Homo sapiens: one gene and its partner. The protein of the gene in region 2 interacts with the protein of the main gene of each other region in a pairwise test. Each region holds a gene or a part of one and is shown on either strand. Other genes may lie near its edges. The genes, in order: RAI1 and CASP2.

Region 1 (3,815 bases), on a different chromosome or scaffold from region 2:
CAGCCTGGGCAACATGGTGAAACTGTCTCTACAAAAAATAGTGAGGGTTGGTGGTGTGTGCCTGTAGTCCCAGCTACTCAGGAAGGTGAGGTGGGAGGATTGCTGCAGCCTGGGAGGTTGAGGCTGCAGTGAGCCGAGATGACGCCACTGCCTGTACTCCAGCCTGGGCAAGAGTGAGACCCTGCCTCAAAAAACAAACAAACAAACAAACAAAAAAAACACAAAAAACCTGTACAGGCTGGCTGGCCCCCTGTGGTCCCTGCCTCCCTTCTCCAAAATGGTGCTTGAAAATCTACCAGAAGGAGGTTCAGCACTGGGGTACACATGCCCACAAACATGGGTCATTTAGCACCCTCTGGGCTGGTACATTGGGTAGGGAGACCCCCTTGGGCCAGTGATGCCAGTTACTACCATGGCTGTGGCTACCAGCCAGCATCTGCTGCATGCTTCTGGTGTGCTGGGCGTGGTGTGTGTCCTTGCCCACTGGCTTGCTTTTTTTTTTTTTTTTTTTTTTTGAGACAGAATTTCACTCTGTCCCCCCGGGGCTGGAGTGCAATGGTGTGATCTCCGCTCACGGCAACCGCTGCCTCCTGTGTTCAAGTGATTCTCCTGCCTTAGCCTCCCGAGTAGCTGGGATTACAGGCATGTGCTGCCATGCCCAGCTAATTTTTGTATTTTTAGTAGAGACGGAGTTTCACTGTGTCGGCCAGGCTGGTCTCGAACTCCCGACCTCAGGTGATCTGCCTGCCTAGGCCTCCCAAAGTGCTGGGATTACAGGTGTAAGACATAGCGCCTGGCCTACTGGCTCTTTTTTCTTTTGCTTTTGAGATGGAGTCTTGCTCTGTTGCCCAGGCTAGAGAGCAGTGGCACAATCTTGGCTCACTGCAAGCTCCGCCTCCCGGGTTCACGCCATTCTCCTGCCTCAGCCTCCCCAGTAGCTGGGACTACAGGTGCCCGCCACCACGCCAGGCTAATTTTTTGTATTTTTAGTAGAGACGGGGTTTCTCCGTGTTAGCCAGGATGGTCTCGATCTCCTGACCTCGTGATCCGCCCACCTCAGCCTCCCAAAGTGCTGGGATTACAGGCGTGAGCCACCGCGCCTGGCCGCCTACTGGCTCTAACAGCCCTCTGTGGGTCCCTTTCATTAATCTCACTTTACAGATGGTGAAACTGAGGCTCCCATTCCAGGCAACAGTGAAGGCATTCAGCATGGTTTTCTACCCTTTCTGGCAGCAGGAGCACTTTGAAGCTAGGCTGGGACTGTTCTACCTAGGATGAGACCTGCACCCTCCAGGGGACCAGCTCTCAGACCTGTGAGAGGAGGCGGTGACGTGGTAATCCCTTGAGATGGCTGACTTCATGTAAATCTGATGCCGTCCTCCTCTAAGTCTCAAAACTGTCCTCTGCTGAGCTTGGGGGCTGCCCCACACCTGGACCAGCTGCTTGGAGTGGACGTGGCCAGGACAGGACAGTCACACCAAGAAGGCCCTTGGAAGAGTGAAGCAAACCTGAGGCCGGGGAGGGAGAAGTCACCAGGCGCCAGAGCCACAGTGCCACCGTGCTGGGGGCGGGGGGTGAGGTAGAGAAGGCAGCAGAGAGGGCGGCGGCCTCTGCCCAAGTGCGAAGCCAGTGAAACAAACGACAATAGCTTCCTATGTGCCAGGCATGGCTGGAAGCCTCATGCCCACAGCAACCTTATGATGGGATTACTGTTATTTTACCTGGGTTACCAATGAGAGCTGAGGCTGAGTAACCTGCCCGAGGGCTCCAGGCTGGTCTCTGACCCCTGCAGCTGCCTCCAGGCTGGAGTAGGGGCCCACAGGACCCCACATGCTCAGGGTGGGCGCACCATCCCAACCACAGCAGCTGAGAAATGTCAGAACACTCCCCTCCCCGCTGCCCATGCTGGGAGTGGGGCCTGGGGTTTATTCTAGAATTTCAGGTTTTCAGCTCAGGGCTGAGGCCTCCTTCCCGCCTAGTCTGGGATGGCCTCCTGGAGATCTGGAGTCCAGCGTCCCCAGTTCCTGACCCAAAAGGGATGACGAAACACAAGCCGGCTGCTGTCTGTGAGTGGCCCTTGGTGTCTGGATGTTTAAGCATATGGGGGTCCTCTGGCTGAAGGCTTCTCTCCACTTACTGCACGGAGGCCCCAACCACCCTCAGGCAGGCATATGAATAGCATTTTAGATGTGAAGAAACTAAGATGCAGAGAGAGTGAGGCCTCAGGCCCTTCTGACCCCAGCTACCCAAGAGGAGGGCAGGGGTGGCGGCATGTAAACCCTGCCACAGGTGGGGCCTCTGCAGACACCACCTAGCCCCCTAACAATGCCCGGAGCCCGCTATGGGTCCCTCTCACCCCAAGCATTCCATGGCCAGGCTCCATCTGGATAGGAGGTAGGGGTCTATGATGGCTTTGGGGGAAGGGCAGGCAGGGCTCAGAGATAGCAGGCGAGGGCAGTTCCCAGAAAAGGCCATCGAGGAAAAAAGGTATCCCTGAGAGCTGGCTCAGAGGTTCTGCCCTCCAGAGCGCAAAAGTGAGGTCAAGGTACCGAGGGGTGTGGCAGTGCTGGGGCCAGGGACACAGCTGCACCCCAAGCCCCTTCCACATGCCAGGCAGGTCCCACATGATCCACAGAACCCCACAATCCTGCTAACGGGGTTTGACATTGTGGAGTTCTCAGAGCATGCGTGACTCGCCTGGAGCTATGGAACCAGCCCTCGGCAGAGCTGGGATTTGAACCAGGGTCTCACTCCAAGGAGCATGGCGCCCCCAAGCCACTGAGGCAGGAAGGGGTGGTGAGCCAAAAGTGACCCTGGGAAGCCCCAGACTCTGCCCATTCTCCCAGGATGTCCCATCTGTCTGGCAGGGTGTTCCTGGTTCCGACCTTCCCGGGGCAGCCCTAGTTGCGCAGGCTGTCAGGCCATTTCTGGAGCATGGCACAGCAGACAGGCATGGGCTGGGCTGGCAAGTTCCAGCCCCCGCGTGGTGTAGGGAAGCTAGCGCCTCTCCAACACACACTGTCTCCTCAGTCCAGCAGGACCTTGTGTGTGCATGGGCGGTTAAGACACCCATGGGCCAGGGACAGGATGGGGTGGTCGGTGCTCGGGGCTGACCCCTCCTCCCTTCGGCCGGCCAGTGCTGGCTGCAGGGGATGTGGAGACGACCTGATCTCAGCCTGGTGGGACGTGAGTGTCGGGGAGCCCCTGGTGAGGCTGCGGGACCGAGGATGCCGTGGGGACAAGGCTTTCAGGAATGGGGCTGTGAAGCAGGGGAGGTGGCAGCCAGCTGGGGCTGGTGATCTGAGGGTTATTATTTTTTGATGACGGGAGAGACTTGAACCTGTTTCAAGGCGCTGGGAAGGAGCCAGTAATGAGAGAGAGAGAGAGAGAGAGAGAGAGAGAGAGAGAGAGAGAGAGAGACAGAGAGAGACAGAAAGCAGGAGAGAGGCAAAAAATCACTAACTGGGAAGGGGAGAGGGAAGAGGCCCAAGGCCACCATCTGCTGGGTAAGCAAGGCCCGCGGCACCAGGAACCTGCAGGAGTCCTGTCGGGGCCAGCCTTCCTCTGAGGTGGAGGGTGGAGTGAGGTGGGCAGGGCGTCTGGGCGTGGAGAAGGTCTCCAGCCATCCCCATGGGCAGTGGGAAGCAGGTGCCCAAGACACACACTAGGAGGCGTGGGTGGCAAACACAGTGGGCCCCCACCGGGACCTTGGTTTGGCCAGGCAATGCCACGGCAACTGTCAGGAGCAGGGGCTGCTCAGAGGGGCTGCAGGGGTGTACTGCGAGGAGCAGGTGGGCAGTGCAGCGACGGGGGAG
Region 2 (3,161 bases):
AAAAAAGTTTTGTTTCTGGTTTGTTATAGGTGGCTCATACCTATAATCCTAGCACTTTGGGAGGCCGAAGCGGGCTGATCACTTGAGGCCAGGAGTTAGAGACCAGCCTGGCCAACATGGTGAAATCCCGTATTTAAAAAAAAAAGTTTTGTTTCCTACCAAAACTTCTGTACAAAGTTCCTACAGAACATTCCATCTCTTGCCAAATTCCATGGCCCATCTGCACCTGCACTTACCTCTCAGGCATATCCTTTAGATACAATGCACCCCCAAAATATCCCAACTTACACAAATTCATTGCTTTGATCTCTTCTATGCTGCACTAGAATTCTCTTACAATCTATGCCCACTCTAGAAGACCTTAAATGCAACCAGGTAAGAAATGGAATTTTACTATCTTCACTCTCCCATCCTTCTATTCCAGCCCAATCTGTTATGGCAGCCTACATCTCATAGTCTAAATAATCAAGAACCAGCACTGTTTGCTAATAACTTCCATTTCATCTGTGAGAAATCCCAGGACTACGCAAACTGAGATGGGCCCACACCTGCATATATTTACAGGATCACAGCAGCAAAATAAGAAGGGTTTTCAGGTCTGGGTATGCCTTGTGAGGTGGTAAGGAATGCTGCAGTGTAAGGGGCTAAGGAAACGAAATCTGTGGGCTTCAGAGGACTGAGTATCTACAGAAACAGATATTGAGCACACATCAGTAATAAATATGAGCATTTATTTGGCACCCGATGGCAATACAAAATCCTGGCAGTGGGAGTGGAAAGGTTCTCTCTCTCAAATACTTCCATACTATGTCGACCCAAAGGCAGGACTTGGCAGCAAGGCTCACAAACCACCCAAACAAATATTTATTGAGCACCTTGACTACTACAGGCCTAGCATTTTGCTAGGGACCATGGGAGATGTGAAGGAAGTTATCTCACACATGATATGTCTTCAAGGAGCTAAAAATGCCAGTGGATAAAAGCAAAACACATGGAAAAACAAAGTACAAATAATAATCCGTGTATATTGTCAAAAGGAACATTTTATCAAAAGGTAGGATTGTAGCTAAGGTTGGCTTGCCTTCTTCCCTCTTTTATTCAACAAACATTTAATGAAGGCCCACTATGTGCCAAGCACTTGGTACATGATGGTGAATAAAACAAACAAGGTTTCTGCCCTCATTTACAGCCTGGTAGGGGAGACAGAAATGAACAAGTAAAAGTAGCATATATATAAACTGCAATAAATGCAATGAGGGGAAAAGACAAGATGTGGTGACAGACACAGAAGTAGACTGCTCAGGGACTGAAGGGCCCGGGAATTGTCAAGACTTGAGGAAGAAGGACACCACCTGAGTCAAGAGTGGTGGGGGTGGAGAGCTGAGAAGGCCCAGGAAAAGGGCAGGAAAGAGCACAAAATTAGAAGCTGAGAGGAGACCACTCGGGCTGGAGCTTAGCAAGAAATCACCATTTAATGAGGTTCAAGGGGAAGGCAAGAACCAGTTCTCATAAACCAAGGTGAAGAGTTTACATTTTAAATGAGGGGTAATAGAAAGCAGAAGGGTTCTAAGCAGGGGGGTGATCAGATTTATATTTAAACAACCAAATCCTGGCCAGGTGTGGTGGCTCATGCCTGTAAGCCCAGCTATTTGAGAGGCTGAGGCGGGAAGATGGCTTGAGGCCAGGAGTTCGAGACCAGTCTGAGAAACATAGTGAGAACTCACCTTAAAAAACAAAAAACAGCAAACAACCAAAAAAAATTAAAAACCAAAACTACTCTGTTATGTGAGAACAGACTGGAGGAAGAAAGAATGGAAGTTTTTTTTTTTTTTTTTTTAAAAAAAGGTCTTGCCCGGGCGCAGTGGCTCACGCCTGTAATCCCAACACTTTGGGAGGCTGAGGTGGGTGGATCATGAGGTCAGGAGATCAAGACCATCCCGGCTAACATGGTGAAACCCTGTCTCTACTAAAAATACAAAAAAATTAGCCGGGCACGGTGGCGGGCACCTGTAGTCCCAGCTACTTGGAAGGCTGAGGCAGGAGAATGGCGTGAACCCGGGAGTTGGAGCTTGCAGTGAGCTGAGATCGTGCCACTGCCCTCCAGCCTGGGCGACAGAGCGAGACTCTGTCTCAAAAAAAAAAAAAAAAAAAAAAAAAGTCTTAAAGAACAGGGAAGTTGGGAAGTTTCAGATAAGCAGGGATAAAGGTTTCTAGGTTGAAAACAATAACATGTATGGCACTGAAATAAAAGCCACATAATATCAAAGGAGAGTTTAATACTGAAAGAGAAAGCAGGAACAAAGAACTACATTACATCTTTGAGCATTTACATGATCCTGTAAAGCAGGATTCTAGACAGATTTGGTGGCAGCAGCCAACAGGATGAAATGAAGGTAAAGAAGGGAGAGATATGAAGCAGGGAGATAAGCTAGGAAGCTTTTCTAGAAATCTAGATATGAAGTGCAGGTTGATTGAATGAAAGTGGGAATAGTAAGGGAGAGAGATGGACGTTTCTCAGGAAGGAAAAAGACAGAGAGGTGGTTACAGAGTCTAGGGAAACACACCATTCTTCCTGGCCTTCTCTGATGCTCCCCACGAGGCTCATTTCAGTAACAAAGCTCAGAGAAACAACCAACGAAAGATCTTTGAGACTTCCATGGGCAAAGATCAATAAGGTACAAATGCAAGGCAATGTTGGCTGACAGGCTGCGGTGCCTTGAGCCCAAACGAGCCAAGAGTGTCCTTCCACTGGGTGGCGCTGCAGTACTGAAGGGAACGCACAGGCCGCTTCTGGACACTGCAGCAAGGTGCGTCTCTAGTCATGTTTGCTTCTTCAGAGCCAAAAGATAATGTCTACATTAAATTTGGACACCTTCCAAACTCTCACTCTAGGACAAAAAGGGCGGAGGATATGAATGAAATAAAAGATAGGAGATGGTCTCTCAGACATCTTAACTAATGTAATAAAAGCAATCACTAAAGTGCCATCTACAAAAGCTGGAACTGAACACAAATATGGGGAATTTATATGCCCTCTCCCCATAACCACACTGTGTTTACAACTTCACTTGTCAGGCTCTTCAACTGCAGCTGAAACATTCCTGGCAATAGGTCCAACCAAGGCTGGCTCTACAGGCAAAGGGCTTCACAGAAAAGGAGCT

The links.
Region 1: the proteins of CASP2 (region 2) and RAI1 interact in a two-hybrid assay, tested with the Homo sapiens proteins (one large-scale study listed by BioGRID and IntAct).

Annotation. Positions count from the first base shown.
Region 1 is NC_000017.11:17,799,786-17,803,600, reverse strand, and holds part of RAI1 (retinoic acid-induced protein 1), read right to left. Parts: intron 1-3,815. UniProt on the Homo sapiens protein: Transcriptional regulator of the circadian clock components: CLOCK, BMAL1, BMAL2, PER1/3, CRY1/2, NR1D1/2 and RORA/C. Positively regulates the transcriptional activity of CLOCK a core component of the circadian clock.
Region 2 is NC_000007.14:143,305,246-143,308,406, reverse strand, and holds the end of CASP2 (caspase-2 isoform 1 preproprotein), read right to left. Parts: 3' UTR 711-3,161; downstream 1-710. UniProt on the Homo sapiens protein: Is a regulator of the cascade of caspases responsible for apoptosis execution. Might function by either activating some proteins required for cell death or inactivating proteins necessary for cell survival.